Linked DNA regions of Homo sapiens: all the other regions are linked to region 2. Evidence: fine-mapped expression QTL. A gene starts in region 2. Each other region holds a variant in brackets. All regions are shown on one strand. Distances are between the middles of the regions. Region 1 overlaps GAS7 (growth arrest specific 7). Region 2 holds the start of GAS7 (growth arrest specific 7). Region 3 overlaps GAS7 (growth arrest specific 7). Region 4 overlaps GAS7 (growth arrest specific 7). Region 5 overlaps GAS7 (growth arrest specific 7).

What was found. PIP is the estimated chance that this variant, and not a neighbour inherited with it, causes the effect.
Region 1: its variant is fine-mapped to the expression of GAS7 in whole blood (INTERVAL, PIP 0.91).
Region 3: its variant is fine-mapped to the expression of GAS7 in whole blood (TOPMed, PIP above 0.99). The same link has a PIP of 0.9 or more in lung.
Region 4: its variant is fine-mapped to the expression of GAS7 in whole blood (TOPMed, PIP above 0.99).
Region 5: its variant is fine-mapped to the expression of GAS7 in whole blood (TOPMed, PIP 0.97).

The regions. Positions count from the first base shown.
Region 1 is chr17:10,105,201-10,111,677 of GRCh38, forward strand. All of the region lies in intron 1 of GAS7 (growth arrest specific 7), which reads right to left. Among named protein-coding and RNA genes, the nearest start is that of GAS7, 90 kb to the right of the region's middle. RefSeq lists an enhancer at 2,030-2,571. The variant G/A (reference allele first, on the strand shown) is at 4,268.
Region 2 is chr17:10,195,256-10,201,732 of GRCh38, forward strand. It overlaps GAS7 (growth arrest specific 7), which reads right to left and starts at 3,351. Exons shown (of 14, transcript NM_201433.2): 1 at 2,953-3,351. The coding sequence starts at 3,135.
Region 3 is chr17:10,112,739-10,119,215 of GRCh38, forward strand. The region is part of intron 1 of GAS7 (growth arrest specific 7); the gene reads right to left. Among named protein-coding and RNA genes, the nearest start is that of GAS7, 83 kb to the right of the region's middle. RefSeq lists a silencer at 2,516-2,575 and enhancers at 4,530-5,059, 5,060-5,589, 6,120-6,477. The variant C/T (reference allele first, on the strand shown) is at 2,608.
Region 4 is chr17:10,016,863-10,023,339 of GRCh38, forward strand. GAS7 (growth arrest specific 7) reads right to left here. Exons shown (of 14, transcript NM_201433.2): 2 at 2,915-3,035. Among named protein-coding and RNA genes, the nearest start is that of RCVRN, 110 kb to the left of the region's middle. The variant T/C (reference allele first, on the strand shown) is at 3,535.
Region 5 is chr17:10,078,681-10,085,157 of GRCh38, forward strand. The region is part of intron 1 of GAS7 (growth arrest specific 7); the gene reads right to left. Among named protein-coding and RNA genes, the nearest start is that of GAS7, 120 kb to the right of the region's middle. The variant T/C (reference allele first, on the strand shown) is at 2,877.

The DNA.
Region 1 (6,477 bases), 90 kb before region 2:
AGGCGTCTCCCTCTGCTTGGAGCACCTGCCCTGCTTTTAGGGGGAAGCCACACCTTCTCTTGCCTTCCAGGTGTGGTGTGGCTCAGGTGGTGGCTCCTCCACAAACACCGGCCCCTCCTCTGATCTTCTCCAGCACCTGCCTGCAGCCCAGCTTTGACTCTTATTCAAACTCAAATAAAATTCAGTTCCTTGGTCTCACTAGCCATTTTGCAAGTGCTCAGCGGTCCCATGTGACTAGTGGCTACCATGTTAGATGGTACAGGCCTAGAGCATCCCTGTCCCTGCAGAAATTTCTATTGGACTGTGCTGTTCTAGCATTCCCAGGATGAGGCAGGTCTGATCTTGCATGACACTTTTGCACTTGCTGTCACCTCTGCCTGGAATGCTGTTCCCCTTCCCCTCCCTGTGGCCAGCTGCTTCTTGTCATCCAGACAACAGTTTAAGCGTCACCGCTCCAGAGAGGCCTTCCCTAAGCTCCCAATCCAAAGAAGCCACCCACTTCCTCCCAATCGCATGAGCCCGTGTAACTGCAGAGCACGTATCACTAGCTCATGCCTTTCTTGTTTGCGTCTGTCAGCTTATTCCCCAACTCTACCCCACCTCTCCACCCCAAAGTATACTCGTGAGATCAGGGACCTGGGTAGTCTTACTCACCACTGCATTCCAGCTCCTCCTCCTGCATCTGCCCGATGACTCTGCTCAGTAAGTGTTAGTGGACTGCCAGACCTTGCCATGTTCGTATTTCCTCTCGAGTCTCTCACAACCATCACCTTCTCATCATTATCCCTGCCACCACCCAGGCGGGGCCTTTATCCTCTCCTCCTGGGCAGTACTATAAACAGAATCCTACCTCTGCCCTCCAGTCAACCCTGCAAACATTAGCACGTTACTCCTACTAACATTCCTCTTGTCATATCAACTCCCGGTTCCTCCATCTTCTGGTCCCAAATAGCCTCCACATCCCCAAAAGTGCCATGCGTATTCCTACCTCGGTGCTGCTGGTAAGGCCTCTCCCTCTGCTTGGAGCACCTGCCCTGCTTCTCAGGGAAGGCCACACCTTCTCTTACCTTCCAGGTGTGGCTCGGGTGGCGGCTCCTCCGCAGACACCGGCCCCTCCTCTGATCTTCTCCAGCACCTGTCTGCAGCCCAGCTTTGGCTCTTACTCAAGAAGTCTCACATCCCATGTGCAGGCACACAGATAATCCCCAAGACCATGTCTAAAATTCAACAGTCTCAAACTTTGCTGAGGATCAGAATCACCGGGAGAGCTAATGAAGAACACACAGGTCCAGGCTCACGGAAGCAGGATAGAGTCTGAATCTCTGTACTTTTTCCACCTTCCTTAGGAGATTTGAGATTTGCATCTTTAGAGCATTAGACCTTCAACATGAATAGCTCAACCTCTCTTCATCCTCGCTCCCACCCACACACCCTTCCCAGCCTCTAGTTAAAGATCACTTAACCAATTCCAGCAACTCAGAACTCCTGGGGAGTGACCGACTTGGCGAATAACGTCCTCTCACACAAACCTGCTCTTCTTCAATTATTAAAAGATACCCGCTGTGGTAGGCTTGAAAGTGCCCCCCCCCCCAAATATATTAATATCTTAATCACCAGAACCTGTGAATGTTACCTTATATGGCAAAAGGGACTTTGTAGGGCATGACTGACTTAAGGATTTTGAGGTGGGGGAGTTATTCTGGATTATCTGGGTAGGTTCTAAATGCAATCACAGGGTCTAAGAGGAAGACAAGGTCAAAGAAGAAAGAGGCTGATGCCACAGTCCCACTGGACTGTGGTAAGGTGGTTCCTTACACCAAGGTGGAAACAGGCGCCAAGGAAGGAGTTCAAGAGGATGAAAACAGGAAGGAACAGATTCTCCTTGGAGCTTCCAGAAGGACCAGCCCTGCCGACACCTTAATTTTTAGCCTTGTAAAACTCATTTCAGACTTTGGATCCTTAGAACTATGAGTAAATAAATGCATTTTAAGTCACTGCATTTGTGGCATTCGTTACAGCAGCAATGGGAAACTAACACACTTCCTCTTACATAACACTACAAGGTGAAGTTCTACTTTGTCTGTCTTGCTGGGCCTCCATTAACCTTTATAGGAACGGCCCCAGGTTCAAGAGGCCAAAGACGAGACACAGAGCCAGCCAATGAGACACAGGGTTTTATCAGCTGGAAACTTACATACAGAGTGGTCCAGTGGTGGCAGGCTGGGAAGGAGAAGTAGCTTATATACAGTCCAGTGGTGGCGGGCTGGGCAGGAGAACTGCCTTACACACAGTCCAGTGGTGGCGGGCTGGGCAGGAGAACTACCTTACACATAGTCCAGTGGCAGGCTGAGCAGGGGAACCACCTTACACACAGTCCAGTGGTGGTGAGCTGGTTAGGGAAACCGCCTTACACACAGTCCAGTGGGGGGCTGGGCAGGAGAACCGCCTTACACAGTCCAGTGGTGGTGGGCTGGGCAGGAGAACTACCTTACACACAGTCCAGTGGTGGCAGGCTGAGCAGGGGAACCACCTTACACACAGTCCACTGGTGGTGAGCTGGTTAGGGAAACCGCCTTACACACAGTCCAGTGAGGGGCTGGGCAGGAGAACCGCCTTACACACAGTCCAGTAGGGGACTGGGTAGGAGAACCACCTTACACACAGTCCAGTAGGGGACTGGGCAGGGGAACTGCCTTACACAGTCCAGTGGTGGTGGGCTGGTTAGGGAAACCGCCTTACACACAGTCCAGTGGGAGCTGGGCAGGAGAACCACCTTACACACAGTCCCAGTGGGGGACTGGGCAAGAGAATCACTTTACCACAGTCCAGTGGAGGGCTTGGCAGGGGAACCACCTTACCATAGTCCAGAGGGGGTCTGGGCAAGAGAATCACTGTACCACAGTCCAGTGGCGGGCTGGGCTGGAGAACCACATGGCCCAGCGTGGCCAGCTAGGCAGGAGAACTGCAAGCACTTGCCTGAAGCATGCAGTTTATAGAGCATTTTTGCTTTGCATCCTCTCCCTAACAACCTCCACCTGGCAACCTTCATTTAACCCAAAAGAAAGGGCCTTGGTCCTCCATATGGCCTGTGTTCCACTGGACGGGCCAAGGGCTCAGATGTTTCTCATAGGTAAGGAATGAATCTCTGAGTTGGCCACTGCCTGATTCTTTAGCATGGAAATCCACACACACATTCTGGTGCATCTACCACACAGGGTCGTTCTCAGGGTATGCTTAACTTATTGCTGTCAAGTGTGTCTACCATGCACTGTGATTTTCTATTTAATGCATGCCCCAGTGAGCATTTTCTTTGAGCATCATATAGTCCTGAAAAAGTTTCAGATTTTGGAGGATCTGTCTTTGTATTTAGCTCAGATATTTAAAAATTGCACTGCAGAGTAACCAGATAGCATGACGTTCATATAAAAACAGGCACGTAGACCAATGGAACAGAATAGAGAATCCAGAAATAAATCCATGTATTTACAGCCAACTGAGTTTCAACAAAAGCACCAAGAATACACATTGAGGAAAGGACAGTCTCTTCAATCAGGGGTGTTGAGGAAACTGGATATCCATACGTAGAGGAATAAAACTGGACCCCTATCTCTCACCATATACAAAAATCAACTCAAGATGGATTAAAGACTTAAACTAAGGCTCGAAACTATAAAACTACTAGAAAGAACACTTCAGGACATTGGTCTAGGCAAAGATTTTACAGTTAAGACCTCAAAAGCACAGACAACAAAACCAAAAATAGACAAATGGGCCCATATTAAACTAAAAAGGTTTTACAAAGCAAAGGAAACAGTCAACAAAGTGGAAAGACAATCTATTGAATGGGAGAGAATATTTGAAAACTATTTATCTGATGAGGGACTAATAGCCAGAATATACAAGGAACTCAACAGCAAAAAAAATTTAAAAAAATAAAAATAAATAAAAATAAAATAACCATTAAAAAGTAGGCAAAGGGCATGAATAGACATTCTCAACAGAAGACATACAAATTGCTAACAGGCATATAAAAAAATACCCAACATCACTAATCACCAGGGAAATTCAAATTAAAACCACAACGAGCTATCATCTTACGCCAGAGTTAGAACGGGTATGCCTGGCTTATTTAACTTAAGGTAACATAATAACCTCCAGTTCCATTCATGTTGCTGCTAATGACAGCCGTTAGAACAGCTATCATTAAAAAGATAAAAAATATCATTAAAAAGATAAAAAATAACAGATACTGCCAAGGATGAGGAAA[G/A]ATGGGATCTCTTGTACACTACTGGTGGGAATGCAAATTGGTACAGCCACTGGGGAAACCAGTACAGAGACTTCTCAGAAAACTAAAAATAGAACAACCATACCATCCAGCAATCCCACTGCTGGGTATTTATCCAAACAAAAAGAAATCAGGATATCAAAAGACATCAGGCCAGGAGCAGTGGCTCACGCCTGTAATTCCAACACTTTGGGAGGCCAAGGCAGGTGGATCACCTGAGATCAGGAGTTCAAGACCAGCCTGGCCAACATAGCAAAACTCCGTCTCTACTTAAAAATACAAAAACAGGGCCAGGCGCGGTGGTACACGCCTGTAATCCCAGCACTTTGGGAGGCAGAGGCGGGTGGATCATGAGGTCAGGAGTTTGAGACCAGCCTGGCCAACGTGGTAAAACCCCCTCTGTACTAAAAATACAAAAATCAGCTGGGCGTGGTGGTGGGCGCCTGTAATCCCAGCTATTCGGGAGGATGAGGCAGGAGAATCACTTGAACCCGGGAGGTGGAGGTTGCAGTGAGCCGAGATTGTGCCATTGCACTTCAGCCTGGGCGACACAGCAAGGCTCCGTCTCAAAAAAAAAAAAAAAAAAAAGATATCAAAGAGATACCTGTACTCACACGTTTACTGCAGCATGATTCACAATAGCAAAATTATGGAATCAACCTAAGTGTCCATCAATGGACAAGTGGATAAAAAAATGCGGTATATATACACCGTGGAATTCTATTCAGCATGAAAAAGAAAGAAATCATGTCATTAGCAGCAACATGAACGGAACTGGAGGTTATTATGTTAAGTTAAATAAGCCAGGCATAGAAAGACAAAGATCAGTGTTCTCACTGATATGTAGGAGCTAAAAAAGTTGCTCTCGTGGAGATGAGAGTAGATAGTTAACTAGAGGCTAGGAAGGGTGTGTGGGAAAGAGGGGGGATGAAGAGAGTTTGGTTAAGGGGTACAAACATACAGTTAGACAGAAGATATAAGTTCTTTTCTTTTTTTTTAAGACGGAGTCTCGCTGTGACACCCAGGCTGAAGTGCAATGGCGCAATCTTGGCTCACGGCAACCTCCGTCTCCCGGGTTCAACCAATTCTCCTGTCTAAGCCTCAGCCTCCCAAGTAGTTGGGACTACAGGTGCATGTCACCACGTCTGGCTGATTTTTGTATTTTTAGTAGAGACGGTGTTTCACCATATTGGTCAGGCTGGTCTCGAACTCCTGACCTCAAGTGATCTGCCCGCCTCAGCCTCCCAAAGTGCTGGGATTACAGGCATGAGCCACTGCGCCCAGCCAGAAGATACAAGTTCTAAAGTTGGATAGCAGAGCAGAGGGATTATAGTTAGCAACAATATATCACACATTTTGAAACAGCTAGAAGAATGTTTGTTCCCAACACACAGCAATGACTGACGCTAAGGTTATGGATACCCCAAATACCCTGACTTATCAATTATTATACATTCTATACATGCAACCAAATATCACATCTACCCCATAAATATGTAAAACATTACGCGTCGATTAAAAAGTAAAATAACACAAGATGCTCTATTTAGACAGGGCTAGTTTGCTTTGGTGTCCACAACTTGTAGGTCAGTAACTGCTGTGTACATCTATGGATATCAAAAGTCCTTAAGGGGGCCGGGTGTCTTGGCTGGCACCTGTAATCCTAGCAGTTTGGGAGGCTGAGATGGGAGGATCCTTTGAGGTCAGGAGTTCGAGACCAGCCTGGTCAACATGGTGAAACCCCGTCTCTACTAAAAATACAGAAATGGCCAGGCGCAATGGCTCACGCCTGTAATCCCACAACTTTGGGAGGCCGAGGTGGGCGGATGATGGGTAAGGAGATTGAGACAATGTTGGATAACACAGTGAAACCCCGTCTCTATTAAAAATACAAAATAATAGCCAGGCGTGGTGTCGTGCACCTGTAGTCTCAGCTACTTGGGAGGCTGAGGCAGGAGAATGGCATGAACCCGGGAGGCGGACGTTGCAGTGAGCCAAGACTGTGCCACTGCACTCCAGCCTGGGTGACAGAGTGAGACTCTGTCTCAAAAAAACAAACAAACAAACAAACAAAAAACCAGAAATATACTTGGGAGGCTGAGGCAGGAGAATCGCTTGAACCCAGGAGGCAGAGGGTACAGTGAGCCGAGATCACGCCACTGCACTCCAGCCTGGAGACAGGGCAAGACTCC
Region 2 (6,477 bases):
GTCAGATCTGGTGACTCTCTTGGAGTTAGCTCCCAACTCCCCTCCCCCGTGTATGCTTCCTGCAAAGGCTGGGTCTCTCGGTTCCCCTTGCTTCATCTGAACAAGGAAGATCTCCTTGGGAAGTATCCAGTGTGCACACAGTATTCAGTGCCTCCCTCCCCTCCACCAAGATGGGGTTTCCTAGTATCACTCTTTCTATCAGGGTGAAAGTTCCGCTGGAGTAGGGAGCACATTAGAGATGCCATATTCATCTGTGTACCCACAATCCCATCCCTAGGCCAGGAGGCTAGTACAGTCCATCTGTCTGTACTTGTTTCTCCAACAGCTGCCCTGGCCTTCTGAACTCCATGCTCCCAAGCAAGCTGAGTGACAGCACCACATTGGCTGACATCTCATGAGGTTCGCCATCTCCAGTATCTATGGGCCCCCTCTCTAGTCTCATGAGTCCAGATGCTGGCCAGTCTACCCACCAGCCTGGGGACCTCTGCATTCTCTGAGTCTGCCCTTCAGGACTCACCCCATCCCAAGCAACTCTGCTTGCATGTCCTCTATCTCTACCTAGCCTTCAGCCTTGAGGTCCAACTTGCTCATGTAGGAGGTTCCCAGATGCCAAGCACCTGACCCACATGCCCCCCTGTTGAAACTGCATCTGCTTTGGCCCTGAGAAGAGTCCCACCCAGTACTTAGGATACAGGACTCGGGCCCACTGTGGGAAGACCCCCAGCTGGTTCTGAGTAAAGTCACACTTTGGGGTTAGCAGGGAAGATCCTCCAAGTTGCTCCTGGATGCAGCTGTCCTCGTTTTAGCCCTAGAGGTTCAGCCTCCCCTTCGCGGTGCTGTCACCAACATGCTGACCTCAGGGGCTGCGCATGCCCCTTTTCCCCATGGATCCAGACCCTTCGCTCACACGCTGTTTGGCATAGTTGAGCCCGGGCTATCATGTTTAAAAAAGGCACAGGCGCAGGGGGTGATACTCAGTCATCTGAGCTGCTAACAAAACACGCAAGCATTACTAGTTGGGGAGCTGACTTCGCCTCTCTCATATTCAGCTTGCTTGTCTATAAAATGGGGGAAGTACCTCACCCTTCACAGAGCTGTCAGGGAACTGGTGATAACGTGCACACACTGTGCCAAGCAGGTGCTCAGAAGTATTGCTCACGCAGATGGATGCTTCTGTTGCAAGTTACTAGTCAGGAATGGTCTGAGAGGCCCTGAGACACCAGAGATCTCTTACCTTTGTATATGCCAGAGGATGGGACAGACACACCCAAAACTGTCCCAGTTGTTAATTCCGCTTGTCCCCTGGCCCTGGTCCATCGTCCCTTTCCCGGAAGAAAAAGCAGCACTCCACTCTTGCTAACTAACACCTACCCAGCCTCACCCCTACACAAAACACAGCTGGCTCAGTCCAGCCAGGGATGCTCCTCACCGGACAGACATCCATCAGCCAAATTTCCACATCAGAATTTCCTGGAAAAGGGTGACCACCCGAAGAACTCCCAAAATACGTATCTATCCCAGGGCTTCAAGCTAGAAACAAGGAGGCCCCTTGCTTCTCATGTAAGAAGCAATACGTTCGCTTTCTTTTACATCCGAATCTCGGGAAAGGAACTGGAAAAGCCAGGGCAGGGCACACCTGAGCCTCTCCTACAAGTAGGGTATCTCCGGATTCTCCAGATACAGAACCAAGAGGGTTCCTGCAACATACTCTGCTGACAGCCCATGAAAGCTCATTCCAGCAGCCCCTAAACTTTGCTCAAATGCTACTGATGCCTTTAGGAGAGATTTTGTTGTTCTCTGGACCTGAAAGCAATCTAATGTACTTTTATAAGGCCAGGCTCTTGCTGACAATGTTGCCACAGGATACATCCTCAGGCGGACTCACCCTGTAACCATTTCACTTCTTTCTTTCTTCCCCCCGCCCCCGATGAATTGCACTGAGCATTCTCAGTCAAAATTTGCTACTTTCTCTGTGAAGTAGGTCAAGAGTTAAATAATAAATAAATTCAGCCTCCATGATTTCTTCCGGCAGTGTTTTACCAGAATGTTTAGGAATACTGACACCATTGAAGGTAACTGTTAATTTAGTCTTTACAAGAATCCTGGGGGCAGGCGGGCTTCTAGTAAAGGGGATGTCCTGGAAGGTCACCCCCCCACACACAAAGGACTTTAGAAACTTCGGGTCTCACTCAGGCTGTGACTGCGAGCTCAGTGATTAGAGGACAGCCTGTCACATAGACAATAAACAGCCAGCCGCCTTGCCTCAGCAGGTCCTGTGCAGCCCTGGGGCCAGGCCAGAACCCCAGGAACAAGCCACTTTCGGGTTCTGAGCCTTAGCCTCGGGGAGCTGGACCAGGGGAGCAGGCAGTGGCGGGGGGTGCTACGGCACCCCAGGATCAAGCCTGCTGAGGGGGCTCGGGCTGGTGGCCAGCAGGCTCGGCTGACCAGCAAGTGGGTGGTCCCGAGGCGGCCAGGCAGCCTGACCCAAGGCAGCACGACCGTCCACGGGTCATCAGGCTCTAGACTCCGGGGTGGAGACGCGGGGCTGCGGGACCGAGTCGGTGCCACTTTCTCGCACCCCTGATCCTCCGTGCCTCTTCCCAAGACCGCCAGACCCTTCACCGGCCCCTGCCACTGCCGGGAACGCTCCCGCCTGCTCCTTAACTCACACAGGCAACAAGTTCTCGCTTCCTCAGAGCAGCCACGGTGTGCTCCGGAGGCCCGGCGCAAGGTGGAAGCTCCCCGCGAGTCCGCGTTGCCCACGCCCCGAGGGGCGCCCGCTGCCGTCGCTGCCCCCCAGGAGCGTGGAGCTACAGGTAGCGCCGGCAAGGGCTGCCCCCCGGGGCGCCCCTCCGACCGGGACGCTGCGGCATCCCCGGAACGGGCAACAGGTACGCGAGCGCACCGAGGACCGCAGCCCCGGCTCCTACAGCCCCGGCCCTCGCCCCTTACCTCCAGCAACTGCACGTAGCTCGCCGGGAACCAGCCACGGAGCCCGTCCTCCTTCTCGCCTTCCCACCAGCCGCCGTCCGGGACCTGCAGCAGCGTGATCAGCTCGCCCGCGGCGAAGCGCAGCCCCTGGCCGTGCCGCTCCCCGGAGAAGGGGTACAGGGTCCGGCAGCGAGCGCCGGACATGGCCTTGGCGCCCGGGTTCACAGCGCAGCCTGCATTCCCGCCGAGCCCCACGGGCTGGGCAGCGGCTCCGCGGGGTCCCAGGCGCCCGGCGCTCCGGGCTCCCGCGCTCTGGGCGCGCGCCGTCTCTGGGGTGCGCGGGGGTCCTCAGGCAGGCGGGGGACGCGCGCTCCGCGCCGGGAAGCAGAGACTCGTTGGCTTCGCAGAGCGAGCGGCGACGCCCCCGGGCCGGGCAGCTCGCGGATCCTAGCTCTGGGCTGGGGGGCGGGGCTCAGGGGGAGGAGACCCAGGCGCCGCGGGCTCCGGAGACAACTTCCCGGGAACGCGGAACGCGGGCTGCCGCCGCGAGGGCTGGCCGGGGCCGGGGCCGGGACCGGGGCCGGGGCCGCCCTGGCGCGCGGAAATGCGCAGCTCCCCCGGGAGGTGGGACCCGGAGCATCCCCCGCGGCAGGACTCCGCGGCGGGCGGCCGTGGAGAGGAGCTGGCGGCCGGGTGGCCGGGCGGGGGTTAGCTCACTGGCGAGGGGGCGGGCCGGGGCGGGGCCAGGGCGGCCACGCCCGCGGAGGGCTGCGCGCTCCCTCGCAGAGGGGCCTGTCACTGGGGAGAGGGGCTCCCACTCGCGCCCCCACCGCCGGGGACCGCGGGAATGGAAACGCCCCTCTGTTCTGTGCCTGCTTTGTAGGCCTGGCGGCCCGTGGCGTGCGGGCGGCTTCTTCGAGGTGTCTGCGAGGGATCGTTTGTGGTTGTCATTGTAGTGGTTGAACCTGGGGTTGAACTTGTCTCACCGGAAACTGAACAATGGGTGAAAGACAGGTTTGAAGCCTGGCGCCTGAGCCCAGCAGCCTGGTGGCAGCGTGGCACGCTGGAGGGACGGAATGGAGAGAAGACGGGGTCGGAGTTGATAGAATTGGAAACAGTCGATGGGGATAAATGGAGGAAAGGCGAACGGTGAGAGGAACAGCACCAATGCTTTTACTTGCAGAGGGAAGGCCGGCCCAGGGTACCAGCCCTCCCGAAATCGAGATGGGTTGGCTAAAGAGTCTACACTCATGTAGTCAGTCAACAAACATTACCAGGAGGCTGCCATGTTCCATGCGATGTGCCAGGTACTACAAACATCATTTGGGCCAGTCCCTGCTCTCCAGGGACCAGTGAACCTGAGTGCTGCAGAATGTTGACCTTGAACTGACCGTACAGAAGTAAAAGAAAGCTTGGTTTCTTTGCTAGTCTACTCCATAAAAAATTTTAAAGAAATAAAATAAAGTACATTTTTTAGCCTGTAAATAGCTGGACTCGGCCAGGCGCGGTGGCTCACGCCTGTAATCCCAGCACTTTGGGAGGCTGAGGCGAATGGCTCACTTGAGGTCAGGAGTTCAAGACCAGCCTGGCCAACAAGGTGAAACCCCATCTCCACTAAAAATACAAAAATTAGCCGGGCGTGGTGGCGGGTGCCTGTAATCCCAGCTACTCAGGAGGCTGAGGCAGGAGAATGGCTTGAACCCGGGAGGTGGAAGTTGCAGTGGGCGGAGATCATACCACTGCATTCCAGCCTGGGTAACAAGGGTGAAACTCCGTCTCAAAAAAAAAAAAAGCTGGACCCTTTAATACGCCTGTATACCTCTGTCTACTCCTTCCCCCCTCCCCCAGTCACCTTCTGTGGCTCCCTATTGCCTTTTAAATTTGGTACAAACTTCTCTGCCTGTACATTTCAGGCCCTCCACAACGCCTCCTCTAGCTTCACCTCTTACTATGACTGCCTAGATATCCATTACAAAACCAGTCAGGCCGGGCTCCAAGAGCCTGAAGATCTTGCGCACCTGTCTATGCTTTGAATCAGACCCTGGCACAGAGCCTTTCACCTAGTTCAATGGTTCTCAATCCTGGCTGCACATTACAGTCATTATGCAACTTTTTAAAAATACTCATGCCCAGGTTTTAAGAGTCACTACTGAGCCCTAGTCTGCAGCTAAGCCATCTCACCTGAGCAGCCTCCATCTGTTCTCTGGCCATGGGCAAAGTGACACAAGCAGATTATTTGTAATAGTCCATCAATTGCAAAGTCTTGAACATTCGCTTGGCCGGAAATATAAAGAAACAAACTCTTGACCACAGTCACCACTAAGAGTCCCTTAAAGCGGAGCTGCATAACTTCATATCAAAAACAGTCATTAAAAATAGCTGGCCCAATGAAGTTTTAAAAGAGATACAATTCCTTGTATCAGGAAAATATGTGACTTCCAGCAGGCTGTTCTGAGGCTTCATTCCTGATGATGTGGCCTGAATCAAGGTAGGACAACTGATTTCCAGCCATCCTGCAACCCTAATTCTCTGCATGCCCGTGAGGAACTGTGATCCAGTTTGGACTTGAGAAATCGCAGCCTACACAGCATGCCATACACTTGAGTTCTACCTGACCCACCTCAAACATTCCTGCAGCAACCAAAAATGATAATAGCTGTTAATTTCTCCACTTAATTCATTTCATTCCTGTAATCCTACGAGCTGATGAGGTGACTGTTGTCCCAGTTTTCAGGTAAAGAAACTGGGCTCAAAGAGTGTGACTTGCTCACCATCATACAGCTGGTCAACAGCAGAATCAGCTTTGAACTCAATTCTAGCTTATTGTACACTGGTGTTGCTTTCTGTCGTCCCCCCTGCCAGTCAGAAAGCAGGTATCCTAGTGACTCACCCACAAATAGCATCTTAAGAGAAAGTTCTCTAGGCTGGGCACAGCCTGTGAGAGCTTATGCCTGTAATCCCCACACTTTGGGAGGCCAAGGCGGGCGGATCACGAGGCCAGCAGATTGAGACCAGTCTGGCCAACATGGTGAAACCCCATCTTTACTAAAAATACAAAAATTAGCTAGGTGTGGTGCCGCGTGCCTGTAATCCCAGCTACTCAGGAGGCTGAGGCAGGAGAATCGCTTGAACCTGGAAGGTGGAGGTTGCAGTGAGCCGAGATCACGCCACTGTACTCCAGCCTGGCGACAGAGCAAGACTCCATCTCAGAAAAAAGAAAAGAAAAGAAAAGAAAAGACTCTCTGGTGATACCCAATGTCAGTCTTCATAGAAATAAGACTGGACTAGCAGTTAGTGGAACTCCTGTTGCTGATCTCTTATCAATCAGGTAACCTCCAAATCCTCAAGTCTTCCCATACCTTTGGGTCTATTTCCCCGTCTGTAATTGGAGATCGAATCCAGTAACTGGAATATGGGAATTTAAATGGTTAAATGTAGTTAGTGGTTAAATATGTTGGCTCTGGACTGCCTTTATTCAAACCCCATTTCTGCCACTTTCTAGCTGTGTGGCATTGGGTGATTTACTTACGTCTCTGAGCGTCATTT
Region 3 (6,477 bases), 83 kb before region 2:
CAAAAACAAACAAAGAAAAGAAAAAAGAAAGAAAGAAAGAGAGAAAGAGAAAGAAAGAAAAGAAAAGAGAGAGAAAAGGAAGAAAGAGGGAAGGAAGGAAAGAAAGAAAAGAAAAGAAAAAAAGAAAAAGAAAAGAGAAAAGAGAGTCCAGTAGTGTCATCACAAGTAGAAAATTCAAGTGTTGCAAAGGATTCTTTCCCTTAAGATCTATATGTAAAACAACCGACTGGCCTGCAGAGAGGCTAGACCAAGTCCACCCAACGATCTGCAAGACAGAGGGTCCTCTGAGGGTCCACTCCCTATGGCCCAGGGAAGCAGAGAGGGACCCCATCCACTCACTGCCTGCATGGGAGGCTGCAATAGAGTGGGGGAGCCATGGGAGAGAAATTCAACAGAAAGTAAAGACAAACTTTTCCAAGCAGAAATTAAAAAAAAATCTGAAAGTGCACGATGCTGGCAAGGCTATGGGAAAGCAGGCACTCCTACTCGCTGCTAGCAGAAGTGTAAGCTAGAACAGTCTTGTTAGAGGCAATCTGGCCCTTTCTGTCAAAACTACAAACACATATATTCTTTGTTCCAACCTTTCAACCTCAGAAACTTGCCCTTCAGAGACCCTCACCCACGTGCAGAATGATGGATATACGAGGCTATCCACAGCAGCAACAGGTAAAGGTAACAGAGAAAGATTAGAAGCAACCTTTATGCCCATTGGTGAAATGAGTGGGGCAGGCATTAAACAGGAGGAGGAAGCTCTTCCTATTGACTAAACTCCAAGATATGTTATATGATTTAACAAAAAGCATCAGTAGCACCAGCAAGGTGCAGAAGTATAGAGGGGATACCTGTGTTCAGAAAACCACAGAGATCGCATTTTTCCGCCCCCTACAACTTGTGCCTCTCACTTCCCGACACACGGTTTCCTGGGTTAAGGAAAATAAAATGAAACATATTTGGAAATTCCTGGACTACTTCTGGAAGTACCCACAAGAAACTGATCACTTGTTTGCCACTCGGGAAGGGAACTGATAGGTTGAGGACAGGGATGGGAAGGAGACCAACTTTTCACTCTACGTTTTTTGTACCTTTCAGATATCAGACCTGAGCATATATTACCTATTTGATAAGTATAAAATTAACAGATATACTTTTGGGTATACATACTGACCAAACATACTTCTGTCTCTTTTGTTTCTCAAGATAGGGTCTTGCTATCTTGCCCAGGCTGGAGTGCAGTGGTGTGATCACAGCTCACTGCAGCCTCAACCTCCCGGGCTCAAGTGATCTTCCTGCCTCAGCCTCCCGAGTAGCTGGGGCTACAGGCATGCACCACCACGCCTGGCTAATCTTTTTTTTTCTTTCATTATTTTTTGTAGAGATGGGGGTCTCCCTATGTTGCGCAGGCTGATCTCAAACTCCTGGGCTCAAGAAATCCTCCTGCCTCAGCCTCTTAAAGTGCTGAGATTACAGGCATGAGCCACCATGCACTTTTCCGTCAATGCTACAGTCTCACTGGGAAGGAAGCCAGTGCCTGCCAGGTGAGTGGGCCCAGGTTACCAGAGCACACAGCCCTGTGCTCCCAAGATGCAACAGGCCCCTCGTTGTGCCCTGCCCTGCAATCTGGTTCTTCAGAAGAGGAGTTCCCAAATACCTGGTCCTCTGCAAATCTGAGCTGTAAACAAGCCTTGGAAAGGTCCTCCCCTTACCTAAATCCCAGCTTCAGGGTCCCGTTTCTGACTGGGGTGCCACCACCAAAGGCAGGGTATACACAGCCACCGAGTGATCCTCTGCCTGCTTCTCACTCCAGGGAAGAAAATCAAAGCAGGTCCCATGGCTGCCGTCTGATAATCACTATGGACACCACACACCAGCCAGCATCAGGGCTGTGTCCAATTAGCCACCCCCATAACAACACCATAGCAACAAAGGTAATATTATTGTTCTAAAGAGAAGAGAAAAACCACACACACACACACACACACACACACACACACACACTGTGTTGTGTGACAGCTTTGAAAGCCACAGAGATCGCATTTTTCCACACCCTAGAACTTGTGCCTCTCACTTCCCGACACACAGTTTCCTCAATGAGAAGTCACAGGCTTGGGGCAATCTCCTCTTCACGCCATTCCAAGATGCGTGTCCTTCACAGGAAACTGGCATGAGAATGATTCTCTGGCAAGCCAGGAGTCAGGGCTGCCTCCTCGCTCTGCCTCTGTGGCTGGCAGGGCTGGGCCAGCTGCAGACCAACAGGCTGGGGGTCATGCTCCAAGCTGTCCTCTGTCTGTCTGTCTGTCTGGCTGGCTGGCTGGCTGCCTCTCTGTGCCAGACCCAAGCTGGCACTGGGGTTTTGGTGGTTGCATCAATGAGCCACACGCTAATCTCCAGACCTAAATGTGGAAAGCATTAACCCAAATGAAAAGACATAAATTAGGACGGGGGCTTATGGGATGGAGGAAAACAGCTCTTCTCTGAGCGAGAGCCTGGGCTGTTGCACAAGAGCTGAGTGAGTCACCAGCCAGCAGAGGGAAGGACCAGGGACGGAAGGAGGGAGGGGAGCCCCCCGTGGGACTGGCGGGTGCACAGGCGGGGGGAACGCTGCAAAAA[C/T]ACAGCTGTAGGTTCATAACTAAGCACACTTCATCAGCAGTCTGAAGGAGGGTGGGGGGCAAAGTGTCACCTCCTCCCCAACTCAGGAAGTGTTGCAACACGTGTCCTCCCCAGAGAAGACAGCAGAAAGAAGTGTTCCTAACTGTTCACCCTTTACAGGCTGCAGCTGTGCCCCGGGGAAGCACACCTCAGCACAGAGAAGGCCTCTCTCATCCCTCCTTGCCCCTTCTTGGCAGTGTCCATACACTTGGGGGTCCCCTAGCATGAGGTGTCCATTGTGGGCACACAACTCTTGCCCATACTTATTACCATTTCTTGTCTTTTCTTCCTTTCCTTTTTCCAAACTCCCCATCCTCCATACTACTGTTGTTAACAACAAGACAAATCCTTTGGTCTCCCCCGCCCCTAGTCCCTGGGGAGAACCTTATACCTTCCCTTAAAACCGTGCCCCACTCACCAACCTCCCCAGCCATGACAGATTCCAAAGCTCCAATATCCAGGCAAATTCTTAGTACCTTCTACGAGTGAGGCACGCTGTCCCTGGGGGTGGCAGTGGAGAGAAGGAGCTCTCCCAAACAGATCATCCAACCAGGACTTCTGAGACTTAGAAGCCCTAGAAATTTGCTCAGCACCTTGGTGGGACCCCTCACCTCTCCAGATCATCATCAAAATGAGGTTGGGTTGGCCGGCCATGGTGGCTCACGACTGTAATCCCAGCACTTTGGGAAGACAAGGGAAGTGAATCATTTGAAGTCAGGAGTTCAAGACCAGCCTGGCCAACATGGCCAAACCCCATCTCTACTAAAAGTACAAAAATTAGCCGAGTGTGGTGGCGTGTGCCTGTGGTCCCAGCTACTCAGGAGGCTGAGGCAGGAGAAGAATTGCTTGAACCCAGGAGGCGGAGGTTGCAGTGAGCTGAGATTGTACCACTGCACTCCAGCCTAGGGGACAGAGTGAGACTCTTGCCTCAAAAAAAAAAAAATGTTGGGTTTAGAGATCAGCTGGGTCCCTTAGACTCTGACAGTGCTCATCTGTAAGAAATGCATGGAACAAAATGAATACTCTCCAGAGTACCTGGCTGCTGCAGGGCTTACCCCGGGGAATGCAAGCTGAAGAAGAGTGCCCTGGGCTGAGCGGGTCTCTGCAACTGGCCGGGCTGCTCACAGCCACTGGGTGCTCAGGAAAGGTGACCAGCAGATAGCACCAGCCGCATCCTGCCAGGGAAGTCACTTACAGGAGAGCTCTTGCGGGTAGGGAGTGGGTCTGAAGTGGACTTAGAGGGCAGCTGGCAGAGACAATGGGAAGAGAAGGTATTCCAGACCAAGGAATCATTCATTCATATTCATTCATTTATTTATTCGACACAGGTTTCTTGAACACCTCTTATACACCAGACGCAGGTTTCGACACTGGGATACATCAGTTAACAAGACAAAGATCCATGCCTCAGGGAGCTTACATTCTAGCAGGGGAGATACACAACCCACAACAAGCCAGACAGACAGGTCAATGATCCAGTTTTGCTGGAAGGTGATAAATGATGAGGGGGGGAAAAGAAAAAACAGAGCAAAGGGGTGGACCTGCCAGAGTGAGTGAGAGACTGAAAGGAGATAAAGAGGTCTATTCATATCCTGAGGCTGCTGTAACAAATTCCCATACACTAACGGGCTTCAAACAATGAAAATTTATTATCTTACAGTTCTGGAGGTCAAAAGTCTGAAACAGGTTTCACAGGGCTAAAGTCAAGATGTCTGCAGGGCTGGCTGGTTCCTCCTGGAGGCTCTAGGAGAGAATCCATTTCTTTGCCTTTCTCAGCTTCTGGAGCCCACCCACTTTCCCTGGCTTTCGGCCCCTTCCTCTCGTCACTCAGCCTCTTGCTTCCAACATCACATCTCCTAACACTGATTCTGGCCCTCCTGCCTCCCTCTCATAAGGACCCTTGGCTTACACTGGGCCCACGTGGATAATCCAGGATTATCTCCCCATCTCCGGTTCTCAACTTAATCACAACTGCAAAATCCCATCTGCCACAGAAGGTAACATATTCACAGGCTCCAGAGATTAGAAGGTAGACATCTTCAGGGGACCATTACTCAGCCCCCACAGGGAGTTGGGCTGCAAAGGCCCTGATGAGGAAGCATGCCTGGAACATTTAAAGAAACACCACGGAAGGCGGAGGACAGAGGCAGGAGTGACACAGGAGTGAGACCAACGGGGAGGAGCAGGTGCTGAGGTCAGGACAGCAATGGGGACCCAATTATGTAGCACCTCATCAGCCACTGTAGGGCTTCCGCGTCTTCACTCTGCCGACATGGGGCACCACTGGACTGTGGTAAGCAGAAGCACGATGTGTTCAGACCCTTCCTGTGAAAACAACAGACTAGGGACCAGCAGAGCAGCCAGGAGGCGCCTGCAACAGCCCGGCAGCATTGTGGTGGCAGCTGTGGCTCAGTCCAAGGCTACAGTGGTAGGGTGGTGAGAAGTGATCCTGTGTTTAAAGATCTGTTTTGCAAGAAGGGCCAACCTGCATTCTCAACATGCTGAATGTGGAATGTGAGAAAAAAAGGGGAGTCAAGGTTTTTGCCTCCAGCGGCTGGAAGGACAAACTAGCCATTTACTGAGCTGTGAGAAGCCACTGTAGCCCAGACCTGGGCTAGGCAACTGCGTCCTGGACAGGACAAGTGGAGATGTCAAGGACACAGCTGGACCTACTTGGGTCTGCACTTTTCCCCGAGGGTAACAGGCAGCACCAGGACCCTGTTGCTCTCCAGGGCGTGGAGACAGCCAAGACCATCCCGGATTACATTTCTAAGTCAGTCACTCGTTGCAAGACAAGATGATAGAGATGGAGTAAACAGGGATATCGCCTGAGCCCTCGGTTTCTCAGCCAGGTATTTTTCCGCTTCTCACAGCGCATAAGGTGGGAAGGAAGTCATGGGAGCACAGCTGGATTCTGGAATGCAGCCCAACCACAGGCTCAAAATCCTCATCTGTGAACAGCTCCACTCACTACCTGGTCAGCCTCTCCGGCCTGCCCTGGGGGCCCTCACTGCCCTGCCAGTCAATTCCAAAAAGCCCTCGTGGGCTGGGCGCAGTGGCTCACGCCTGTAATCCCAACACTTTGGGAGGCCAAGGCTGGTGGATCCCTTGAGGTCCGGAGTTTGAGGCCAGCCTGGCCAACACGGTAAAACCCCGTCTCTACTAAAAATACAAAAATTAGCCAGGTGTGATGGAGGTAGTCCCAGCTACCCTGGGGGCTGAGGCAGGAGAATCATTTGAACCCAGGAGGCGGAGGTTACAGTGAGCTGAGATTGCGCCATTGCACTCCAGCCTGGGGGACAGAGTGAGACTCTGTCTCCAAAAAAAAAAAAAAAAAAAAAAGCCCTTGTGTATCTCTGGGCTGTCTTAACTTATCAGGGGGGTGGTCCTACCCCCGGGGCCCAGTTAACCATGAGGACCAAGCAGGCCCAGCGCAGGTGGCCAGCCTGTGCAGCACCTCCCAGAGGAGGCAAGTGTTCCCCTCCCACTGGACACCAGCACAACGTACACATGCCACATGGTGACATGCACTGTAAGAGGATTCTTACATCTGTCCCCAGGGACAGATGGCACTGCTGAGTGCCTTCCGGGCACTTTCAGCCATTCATTCATTTGACAAATACTTATGGAGCATATACCATGCACCAGGCGCTGTTTCTAAGTATCTGGGGGCACATCAATGAAAAAAGCAGAAGGGAAATAAACCCTTGCTTTCCTGGAGTGACGGCTCCAGCATGAGGTGGGAATGGGTTGCGGGGAGCAGACACTAAACACAATAAAAAAGTGAATTCTAAAGAATGTCAGAAGGTGATCGGGGGAATAGAACATGGT
Region 4 (6,477 bases), 180 kb before region 2:
TCACTTAAGCCCAGGAAGTTAACGCTGCAGTGAGCCATGATCGTGCCACTGCACTCTAGCCTGGGCAACAGAGTGAGACCCTGTCTCAAATAAATAAAAAATATAAAAAAATAAAGAAATCAGCCGGGCGTGATGACACATGCCTGCAATCCCAGCTACTCAGGGGGCTGAGATGGGAGGAGTGTTTGAGCCCAGGAGGTTGAGGCTGCAGTGAGCCATGATTGTGCCACTGTACTCTAGCCTGGGCAACAGAGTGAGACCCTGTCTAAAAAAATAAATAAATAAATAAATAAATAAATAAATAAATAAATAAATAAAGAGAGGAAGGGCAAATAGGACAAGTCCTTGTGGAGCCAACAGACAGCCTGAAGCAGGGACCAGCAGCTATGGTCCAAGGGACCAACTGGTCAAACCAACTATCATATGGCCCAGTGAACTTGCCAACGAAAATCATCTTCCACTTTTTTTTTTTTTTTTCCTTGAGACAGACGGAGTCTTGCTCTGTCACCAGGCTGGAGTGCAATGGCGTGATCTCGGCTCACTGCAACTTCCACCTCACGCGTTCAAGCGATTCTCCTGCCTCAGCCTCCCGGGTAGCTGGGACTACAGGCGCCCGCCACCACACCCGGATAATTTTGATATTTTTAGTAGAGACGGGGTTTCACCATGTTGGTCAGGCTTGTCTGGAACTCCTGACCTCAAGTGATCCACCTGCCTCGGCCTCCCAAAGTGCTGGGATTACAGGCATGAGCCACCATGCCTGGCCAGAACGATGATATTTTATAACACACACAAGTCATCTGAAATTCCTATTTTCGGATCCATAGATAAAGTCTTATTGGAACACAGCTACACTCATTTGTTTACCTATCATCCAGGGCTGCTTTCATGCTGAAACAGTAAAGCTGAGTGGCTGGGATGGAGACCATGTGACCCTCAAAGCCTACATACTGACTACTTGGCCCTTTACAGAAAAAGTTCACTGACCCCTGGCCTGGAGCCTCTGTGGGATCACAATATCTCAGGACCCATAAGAAAGCTGTCACCAGTGGCATCTGCTAAAGTCTGAGTCCCAGAAAAAAGCTGCCAGACACTGTCTATTGATATAAAATATGACTTAAATTAATAGAGTGCAGGTGAAATTAATAGCATACCCATGCGATGGATTACTACACAGCTGTTTAAAAGAATGGGTTAGACTGAAATGTACAAAGTATAGAAAGATGTCCACATACACTGTCAAAGTAACTTAAAGGACAACATAGACAATATTTTCCAATTTATTTTAAAAGAATAAGTATACATATGTTTAAAAGGTGAGACCGGGGATTATTTTTTATTTGAAATCATTTTGTACTTACTGAATTTTTTACCGTGAAAACAAACTAGTCTCTAACTTAAAAAAAGATAAAGATGCTGAAATTCAGAAAGCCATTTCCCCCCATGCCCCTTTGCAATAGAGTAGCTTATTTGGGACAATAACGGATCCAAATTATTCATATCCCCTAGCAACCTGACCTTCCAATAATTTGGATCCAATGTTGTCCCAAATAATTGATGATCTCATGATCCTACGGTCCAAATTCTGTGTTTGGCAGATGGGTGTTGCATACATAGACACACTCTCCTCTGAAATTTCAAGTCTCCGGTAACAGTGCAAAGCTGTTCATGTGTTTGTTTTGAGGAAGTGTAAGATTAGAACGGTCAGAAATAGTCCTACTTCCCTTTTCCTAGAAACTTCATTACCTCTTGCGCTAGAACACCCCTCTTGAGCCTGTGGAAGGTCAGGTTGCCAGGGGATACGAATAAACCAGCTGCCTTCTTTGTGTCTCTGCTAAACAGTAGCTGGCTCCCCTGTCACTAGGACCCCCTCCTGGTGCAGGCTTATAAACATCAGCTGTAGTAACGATACCCCCAGGTGGGAAGGGGTGGTCATGTAGTCAGGCAGGCACAGAGGAGTGAGAGGCCAAGGCTGAGCCAGCAGTGGACTTGGGTACGATTTTCATCTTTTGCCTTGGAACGCATGTCTGTGATTCCCACTAAATCTAACTTTCCTTGGTTTAAATCCTCTCAGTTCTCTCATGGCAATTTCTCTGGGGAGTCACGGAGGTCAAGACACAGCTCTGTTCAGCTGGTTTACCCTGTCCTGCCCTGCCCAAGACCACAGCCTGCAACAGTGCCCTTTGCTCACCTTGTTACAGAACCTGCCACGTGGTGCATCCCCTTTTATAAACCATCCACAGCAAACTTCTGGGGATCCTGGGGTCATTTGAAGGCCTGGGAGGTCCCTAATTATTGGGGTCATTGAGGTGTGGTCCTATTCAACTCAGATGCACATGGAACCTGTACTATTTGATGGGATAAATAACCCATAAGCACCCCCGGCATTTCCCAAAAAACATCTGGAGAAATGCCAGCCAGTGAGATACTTAAGGAAAAAGATGACGTTGTAGTGAAATTAGGGAAACCTCGCATTTGCAACCCCTGTATTGAAGCTTCAAGATCATTAAAACCTTCAAAATTCCAAGACATCATGCAGTGACTTTGCCTCGTTCATTTTATTCAAGCCAGCTGTTGACCATAGAACCTTTTGAGACACCCTTCAGAAAACCCAGCCCCAGACGAACAGGTTGGGTTTAACACAGATACCCAGGGTGGACGTCAGGGTCCAAGGAAGACTCAAACCATAAAGGGCAGCCTTCCTTCCAAGATACTCCCAGAACTACAGACCCAGACTTGCACCCCTACCACCCAGCACAGTGGGAGGAGTAAGACTTTACTGTAGCCCCTGAGCATAGACTTAAGAAGAAAAAACCCCCAAACAGAGAGGCGAAGAAGGGAGAAAAAACGTGCCCCTCTAGAGAGCCAGAATGCCAGGGGGTTGGTGCAGGATTCTCCCCCGAGCGGGACTCACCATTGGTGGTCGTGTTGACATAGTACCGCCGGCCCTGAGGCGACAGGTAGCTCTGCCAGCCAGGTGGAAGGATGACCGTCTGGCTTTCTTCTCCCGGCGGAGGGGGGACCATTCCAGGCTTCTGTTGGAGAAGAAAGAAAAGGTCACACCCATTTGGCATTTTTGCAAGAGTTTTTAAACCAGGAAGGCAAAGGCTGATGAATTCACCCTACAGTAGCGTGACATTGGGAAGTCTGCGGCCCATAAACCCCTGAGGTCAGAGGCAGCACACACGTGACCTCCGGGGTTGCGTGAGCATGAGCAGTGAGAAGCACCTGAGCATTCAGAGCCCCTGCACAGAGGACAGCTCCTCTGGGAGCAGAGAGGAAAATGCCATTCAGCTAATGGAGCTAGACTTTCTCCACGGCCCCCTAGAAAATCACTCACGGGGTGCTGAGCTTGCAAGGGGGCCCTGTCACTCCACCACCTCCCATTGTGAAATCTGAAGCCTGAAATTCCCAGACCACGAAGCACAGCAGCAGACAAGGCCCCAGGCTTGCTGTGCAAACCTAGCAGAAGTAATTAATGCAAGTCATCCCACAGCCAGATGCAAAACATTCTATAATAATGCTGAGAATCCA[T/C]GAAGAGCTGGATGGAGCTTCTCTCGCCAAGGGTCCAGATCACTCTGGCAAAAAGAACGAGGACTCGGAGACAGAGCAGACGCTGACTTCCCATTGTATGCATTTATGTGCAATTAATTCTTTTAACCATGTATAGAATTACTTTTCGTTAAAAAACAAATCAGAGAAAAATGTATATGACATACAAAGAAACTAGATATCTAGTAGACAGATGCTAAAAAAAAAACAACCATGGCCGGGCGCAGTGGCTCACGTCTGTAATCCCAGCACTTTGGGAGGCCGAGGCGGGCGGATTGCCTAAGCTCAGGAGTTCGCGACCAGCCTGGGCAACACGGTGAAACCCCACCTCTACTAAAAATACAAAAAATTAGCTAGGCGTGGTGGTGTGCGCCTGTAGTCCTAGCTACTCGGGAGGCTGAGGCAAGAGAATTGCTTGAACCTAGGAGGCGGAGGTTGCAGTGAGCAGAGATCGCACCACTGCACTCCAGCCTGGGTGACAGAGTGAGAGTCCATCTCAAAACAAACAAACAAAAATATAAAAACAAACAAACAAAAAACAGCCACGATCCCTGGGTGCTGGGATTACAGGCAATTATTATACTCTCCTTTCTACATATCTGTTCCCCCTAAATTTTCTCCCATAAACACAGAAATAAAAGTTGTTAGCTAAAGAACATTTTAAAATTAGGACAGAGAGTCCAAATTAGCCCGTAAGATTGCTGTGCCTTTTGAAGTAAATTGATTAAAATCAGAATTGTAGCCATACGAAGAGAGTAGCCATGAATTTCTCAGCAAAGCCAGGGGACTGTTCACAAACAGTAAAGGTAATCGGCTCCCAAATGTCCTCAGTATCCCCCAGCTGTGCCCATAGTGGTGGTCCCTGGTGACCCCCGCTTAGGAAAACAAGATAACAGAATGAAAGAGAGCAGCAGAGACACACAGCTCCCAGGCTACTCTCACGCTTTGTGAAGGTTGCAAAACCACGTGCCGTGGCTTCCCGTAGTGCCCTGCATGTCATTGGAGGGAACGAGTAAATCTGAGCTGCTCGGGGACTTTGAGTAAACACAGCCTCCCTTCTGCCCTCTGCGTAGCTGCGGTGTAAGTTTCACAATGCATTTTCACAACTTAATTAAAAGCTTTCCCCTATGCCCTGGACGCTCCATCTCCTACACCTGCTAACCTGCAGTGCCCGTTTGATTCCGTATGGAAGACTGTCTTCTAAGACAGCAGGAGACAGTGAGGTGGACAGCAGCCAGGATCAACACGGTGTGGCATCCCACCAGGGTCGCAGGTTGCTGTCTCACCAGCATGTCCAGTAAGCACAAGCCCACATCTGGGCAGGTTTACCTGGGCCCTCTCACTGCTTTGGACTCTCCAGGATTGGAAGATAGCCAAAATATATGCAAGACAAATAGGATTATAACAACGTGCATGTGTGCGTGTGTGTGCGTGTGCATGCGCGCGTGCATGTTGAGAGAAAGAGAAGTATCCCATGCACAGGAGATGAACATTCTGTCCAATAGGATTAGAAATAAAGTCGGCATGGGTGGGGGGTCAGGGGATTAAAACTGAGGGTTAGGGCCAGGTGCAATGTCTCACGCTTGTAATCCTAGCACTTTGGGAGGCCGAGGTGGAAGAATGGCTTGAGCCCAGGAGTTTGAGACCAGCCTGGGCAACATAGGAAGACTCCGTCTGCAAATAATTTTTAAAATTAGCCGGGTGTGGTGGCATACGCCTGTGGTCCCAGCTACTTAGGAGGCTGAGGTGGAAGGATTGCCTGAGCCTAGGAGGTTGTTGCAGTGAGCTGTGATCGCACCACTGCACTCCAGCCTGGGTGACAGAGTGAGACCCTGTCTCAAAACAAAGAACAAAAAAATACAACTACAGGCATGAGTGTTTGATGAAAGAGATTCTAGAACCAGAGGGGCAAGATGCCAGGTGTCCTCCCCTTGAGTGAAATATTCTAGTTTCTCCTTCAATCAAACATGGGAAAGCCATATTGGTACTTATCCAAATAACTTGGGAGGAAATAGGAAGGATCAAATATTGACATGGTCAGAAAAGGGGTGCAGGAGACAGGAACCCACAGGCACAGCGAAAACAGCCCTCAGGCTCAAACAGCCTTCAGTGCCAATCCTGCCTGGACCGCTTGACAGCCATGTGACCACAGGCTACTGACTCACCAGGCTATTCTCGAATCTGTGAAACGAAGGGTGATAATATGAGCCCAGTTGTGGAAGACGACGGAGAGGGTAACAATACGTAACTCAGCACCTAGGGCAGCGCCTGTCCTGAGGGATGCGCAATGAATGGGGTTTTCCACTGGAAGGGCTTCACACAGTCCGTCTACGGCGATACGGACCTCCACCCTAGCCTCACCATCCCTCTGTCTGAAATGTCAGCATCAACAGTCACTTCTCTGAGGTTTCTGTTTCCAATACTACCCGACTTGAACGGCAAACACCTGCTGGGGAGGTTAACAGCCTGAGAGCTGGCCAGTGCGTTCTGGTGAGAGGGCTGGGCAGTGAGGAGACCACTCCTTACAGGAGCTGGAGAGCCAGTGGACCCAACCTGTGAACCTCAGTGTCCCACCCAGGAAAGAGCAATAATGATGCCGTCCCTTCTCCGCAAGGCACTGATGACCACGAGGTCTCCCGCAACGAGGAAATTCAGGACCTTACAGAAGGTGGGAGGCACCCTGATACTGAGCCGTGAAGGGCCATGAGATGCTGAAAGAGGTGGGGAGGAGGGCACTGGGGCCACCAGGCCCATCTCCTAATGTGGCTGATGTGGCAAAGATGGTCTCCACATCTCCCTCCTGCAGGGCCGCACTCTGCCTCCATCTCCCGAGGCAGCCACAGTCCCATCACCTTTCTGTTCTCTTAGAAAGGAGTTCCTCCTGATGGCTGACTTTAAAAGTCAAAAGACATGGAGACAACCAGG
Region 5 (6,477 bases), 120 kb before region 2:
TTCTGCAATAAGAAGTTCAATAGACAGTGTGTAAAATTGGTAGGTAGGGGGATATACAACAGTATAAACATATCATTTAGAAAAAGGGCCAGGTGCAGCAGCTCATGCCTATAATCCCAGTGCTTCGGGAGGCCAAGGCGGGAGGACTGCTTGAGGCCAGGAGTTCAAGACCAGCCTGGGCCACATAGCAAAACCTCTATCTCTACAAAAAAAAATTTTTTTAATTAGCCAGGTGTGATGGTGCATTCCTGTAGTCCCAGCTACTTGGGAAGCTGAGGTGGGAAGATCGCTTGAGCAGAGAAAGAAGAGAAAGAAAGGAAAGTAATCAGATGATGGTGAAGAAAGATCAAGATGACAACTGTTCAGACTTGAAGAGCGACAGACCAAAGCAGAGGATGCAGTGAGCTATGATCACACCACTGGACTCCTGGCTGGGTGACACAGCAAACCCTTCTCTCTAAAATAACAAAAACCCCAAATGGAGATAAAGCCCCATTGTTACAAGTGGTGGACTCTGAGAAGCATTTGGGGTGGAGTATGGTAGGAGAATGCTCTTTTAAAACTCTATTACTTTGATAAAAATAAACATAAACACTGTAAACCGAAAATAAAATTCTAAGTCCTTCCAACTATCTGAATGGACATCCTCCTTGGCCAGGATACTCTAAAGTTTAACCTGAAAGACTGGTTCAGATCATGAAGGGAAATGGGGATCAGACATGCTTCATTACAACCCTCCAGCATTAACTTCAACACAGACCTTATGTCTGATAAGAAATACTTACAACCTATTCTCTCTGAAGCCTGCTACCTGGAGGCTTCATCTAAATGATGAAACTTTGGTCTCTTATTGCAACATTCCTTTCTATTGATAAGTCTTTCAATCAACTGCCAATTAGAAAAATTTTAGATCTACCTATAACCTGGAAACCCCAGCTTCAAGCTGTCCCACCTTTCTGGACCAAACCAATGTATATCTTAAATGTATTTGACTGATCATATCTCCCTAAAATGTATAAAAACTAAGCGGCGCCCTGACCACCTTGGCCACATGTTCTCAGGACCTCCTGAGGACTGTGACACGGTCATGGTCACTCATATTTAGCTCAGAATAAAACTCTTCAAATATTCGACAGAGTTTCACTCTTTTCATTGACAACATCAAATTTAAAGAAAAAAAATACACCACGCACAATGGCAACAAAACTATAAGTGAGCTATGAGTAAATATAACTAAAGAGTAAAAGACTTATATGGAGACAATGTAATGTACTGACTTTGGAGGTGTTTGAACCAGAGTGACTCCATCTTGTATAGAGGCTGGGTAAAAGATAAGTCTGAGACCTACTGGGCTGCACTCCTAGTAGATTTGGCATTCTAAGTCACAGGATGAGATAGGAGGTGGCCACAAGATACAGGTCATAAAGACCTTGTTGGTAGAACAGGCTGTGCCAAAGAAGCCGGCCAAAACCCACCAAAACCAAGATGGCAACAAAACTGACCTCTGGTCATCCTCGCTGCTCATTATACGCTAATTATAATGTATTAGCATGCTAAGAGACATTCCCACCAGCACCATGACAGTTGACAGATGCCAGGAAGTTACCCTATATGGTCTATAAAGGGGAGGAGCCCTCAGTTCCAGGAACTGCCCCCTGCCCCTGCCACCTTTCCTGGAAAATTCATGAATAATCCACCCCTTATTTGGCATATAATCAAGAAATAACCATAAAAATAGGCAACCAGCAGCCCTCAGAGCTGCTCTACCTATGAAGTAGCCATTCTTTCATTCCTTTACTTTCTTAATAAACTTGCTTTAGCTTTACTCCATGAACTCTCCCCAAATTCTTTCTTGCATAAGATCCAAGAACGCTGTCTTGGGGTCTGGTTCAGGACCCCTTTCCAGTAACACTGAGATACAATAAAGAAGATCTAGATCAATGGGAATATACAACTTGTTTCTAGATAGGAAGCCCAATATTACCAAGGAGATCTTTCTTCTCAAATTAATCTCAAAACGTAGTGCCATTTTAATGCAATAGTTGTTCATAGAACTCAAGGAGGTAATCCTAGAATTCACAGGAAATAGTCAAGGGCCAAGAACATCCAAGACAATTTTGAAGAAGAATGAGGACTTATTCCATCAGATAGTAAAACTTCTTGCAAAGTTACAATTAAAATAGTGAACAGATAGACAAATAGTCCAATGAAACCAGAAGAAAGACCCCAGCAACAGAACACACATTTATAAAAACATACAGCAAAGGTGGTCATCAAATCAGCGAGGTGAGAATAGAGGGATTTTTTAAAATAAGTAATAACAAGATGACAGGCTCCTCAGAAAAAGAGTACAATTGGGCTCTTGCCTTATAACAAACAATAAAAGGAAATTACAAATGGATCAAAGATCTCAACATCAAACAAAAATCTTTAAAACTTTCAGAAAAGTTAAGACCATATATGACCTCACCATAAGAGTTTTTTTTTTCTTGAGACGGAGTCTCGCTCTTGTTGCCTAGGCTGGAGTGCGATGGCGCGATCTCAGCTCACTGAAACCTTCCCCTCCCAGGTTCAAGCGATTCTCCTGCCTCAGCCTCCTGAGTAGCTGGGATTACAGGCATGTGCCACCACACCCAGCTAATTTTTGTATTTTTTTGTAGAGACGGGGTTTCACCATGTTGGTCAGGCTGGTCTCGAACTCCTGACCTTGTGATCCACCCGCCTCGGCCTCCCAAAGTGCTGGGATTACAGGTGTGAGCCACTGTGCCCAGCCAAGAGTTCTTAAATGAGGCATAAAAAGCAAAATCCCTAAAGTAATCGATTAATAAATTTGACTAGATTGCAACAAAAAAGTTTTGCATGACAAAATACATCAT[T/C]AGAAAATGAAGCGGTAAAGCAATGACTGAAAGACTGCGAAATAGAAAAATGAGCAGAGAATGCACAGGAAACCCACAAGAGAGGAAATTCAAATGGTAAATAAACATTTGAAAACAGACACGACCTGACTAGCAATGAAGGAAATGCAAATGCAAGTTAAATCCAAGGTGTGGTATTTCACACCCTCGGATGGCAAAAATAAGAAGTCTGATGTGTTGGCAAGGCAAATGGAAATTCTGATACTCTGTGGGTGGCAGTCTGCATTTGCAAAACCTCTCAGAAAAACAATTTGACACTATTTAGGAAAGTCCAGATGTACATTCTCAGACCCAGATATTTTCCTTCTAGGTATATGGACCCAAGAAATACCCAGGCCGGTACACGAGGGGACAGGCATAAGGATAAGCATTACACCATTGCTTAGAATGACCTAAAGTGTCCACCAATGGAGATAAAGGTGGCCCATGCACATGCTAGAACAGTACGCAGCAGTTAAGATGAACTAGCTCTACATGCACCAACACGAAAAAAACTCAAAAACACATTGTGTGAAAAAAGTAAATTACCAAGGTATAAATATCGTATGGCACATCTCATGTAAGTTTCAAAACAAGACATTGCTAAACAGTATTTTGGATATACACACGTTAATAAAGATTTTAAACATGCTCATGGGAAACACATACCAACCCCAGAACAGTGGTTGCCTCCAGGAAGAGAAGGAAAGAAGGGAAAGGAATTGGAAGAACACACAGGATTTTTAATGTCAAATAATGTGTTATTTCTGACTGACATGTGGCCAATGTTAATACTTGTCAAATCCAGAGATGGTAATAAGCACATGAAAAATGTTCAGCATCATCAACCTTCAGGAAAATACAAGATAAAAGCACCATGGGAAACTACATCATACTCCCTAGAATGGCTAAAAGAATTTTTGTTAATGCTGGCAAGGAGGTAGAACAACAGAAGCTCATACGCTGCTGTGATGAGGAAATTGAAGCAGTGACTTCGGAAAATAGTTTTGCCATTTCTTATAAAGTTAAATGCATGCTTACCATATGATCCAGCAATTTCACTCCTACGTACTTATGCCAGAAAAGTGAAAATGTGTCCGAAAAACCTATACACAAATGTTCACAGCAGATTTATTCATAATAGCTAAATCATGGAAGCAACCTAAATGTCCATCAATTGACAAAAGGATAAGCAAATTGCAGTAAATTCAACTAATGGAATTCTCATTAGCAATAAAAAGGGGTGAACCATTGGTACAACAATGAGGATGAATGTCAGACATTATCCTGTGCAAAAGAAGCCACATTCAAGAGTACATACTGCATGACACATTTCTGTGAAACTCTAGAACAAACAAAACTAACCTAGAGGATAGAAATCAGATTCAGAAGTGACCTGGAGAGATGAGTGGGTACAGAGGAGAGAAACTGACTGCAAAGGGGCAAAGGAGAGCTTTCTGGGAAGATGTCTTACACACTGACTAATTCAAGTAGTGGTTGCAAGGGTGTATACATTTGTCAACTCATTGGCCTGTACGCATGTAATAAATTTCATGAGAAATTATAGCTCAGTAAAGTTGATTTTAAAAATACGAATGGCAGATACATTTGTTAACATCTCTGTAATTTTCTGTAGACTTAAATATTTTATTAAAAATTAAACAGACTTTAGGCCAGGTGTGATGGCTCATGCCTGTAATCCCAGCACTTGGGAGGCTGAGATGGGTGGATCACTTGAGGTCAGGAGATCAAGACCAGCGTGGCCAACATGGTAAAACCCTGTCTCTACTAAAAATACAAAAATTAGTTGGGTGTGGTGGTGCACGCCTGTAATCCCAGTGACTCGGTGATGCAGGATTTTTCTCGGTCCCTTTGCCAGTCAGGGACTTCTGGCTGGCGATGCCAGAGGCCTTGCCCAGGGCATGCTATCTGCCGCAGGAGGTGCCCTGCCCAGTTGGCCTTCCCAGGCCAAGTCTGGCTTGTGCACTGATTCCCAAGTTCTTGTCCCACATCCAAGAAGAATGAGGATGCACTGAACATTGAAGTGTGAGGAGGACAGAGAAGAATTTTATTGAATGATGAAACAGCTTTAAATACAGAGGGGACACAGGGGTGGTCCCCCTACCTGAAGGCAGGAAAGTCCCCCATGTGGCTGGGTCCAGGGCCTTTTATGGACTCAGAATGGGGAGTGCATGCTGATTGGTTTGTGAGTATGCAAAAAAGGTTAAAGCAAAGACACCACGCAGAAGTGGGCCTGGCAGTACAGAAAACCAATTAGGAAAGGGTAGGTATACATAAAATAGGTGAAGGGTAGGGATCAATCAGAGGAAAGCACACCAAACAGGAAGACAAGTTCTCAGTCTGGTCCAAGGATTTAAATGGTAGCTTGGCTTTCAGGATTTAAGCTGTCTTCGGCCTGGAGGTGAGGTTTCACAGGGACCTGCCCCTGCCTACCTAGGCATTGGCTGCCTCCTGCTGCTCTCACAGGGAGGCTGCGGCATGAGGATTGCTTAAACCTGGGTGGTGGAATTTGCAGTGAGGCAAGATCATGCCACTGCACTCCAGCCTGGGCAATAGAGCGAGACTCCATCTCAAAAAAATAAAAATAAATATAAACAGACTTTAAAAATATGGGTTATCAATGGCCTATATTGGTGGGGGCAGGAATTTTTAGGGGGAGAATAAAAAACTAAGGTGGTTTACAATGTTAATTCATTTCTTCCCAGTGGTAGAGTTGTCTATTTAATAATCATAGTGGTCCTATTAGAAGTCAAAGGGTCCGTTGAGATCAGCTGGTCCTGGCGTCTCTTTTTCAGAAAAGAGGCCCCAAGTGAGATTTGTCCAAGATCACTACAGCAGATACCTGTTATTTCAGCTGCCCAGTATCCCTTCCCTTTATCTTTTTTTTTGAGACAAAGTCTCGCTCTTGTCCCCCAGGCTGGAGTGCGATGGTGCAATCTCAGCTCACTGCAACCTCTGCTTCCCAGGTTCAAGTGATTCTCCTGCCTCAGCCTCCCAAGTAGCTGAGATTACAGGCACCTGCCACCACACCTGGCTAATATTTGTATTTTTAGTAGAGATGGGGTTTCACCATGTTGGCCAGGCTGGTCTTGAACTCCTGACCTCAGGTGATCCACGTGCCTCGGCCTCCCAAAATGCTGGGATTACAGGCGTGAGCCCCCGTGCCCGGCCCCTTTCCCTATATCTTAATAGCAGCCCGCTCTTTTTTAAGGGGATTCTCTCTCCCCTGCTGGGCACTTTCTCTGTAGGGCTATTAATCCAGGTGCCAGCTCTCCACAACAAACGCCAAGCGGTCCCCGGTGGCTCCTTCACAGGGTACAGGTGTGTGACCGATGGCCCCCTCAGGACACTTCGTGCTGATACTTTAAATTATGGGTAAGAGGAGCAAGAAAGGGATGCATGGAAGTCATCCATCCTGACCCACAGGCCTGACCATGCTGTTTTTGCTATAAGACTGTTCTTATTATTCCTACTTCCTGGCCTCACACTGCTGAGCACCTTGGTTTCTATCTGTTTTCAGGAGGTTTCCCCGGTCTCTGCCCAGTCTATAACCTTCCAGTGT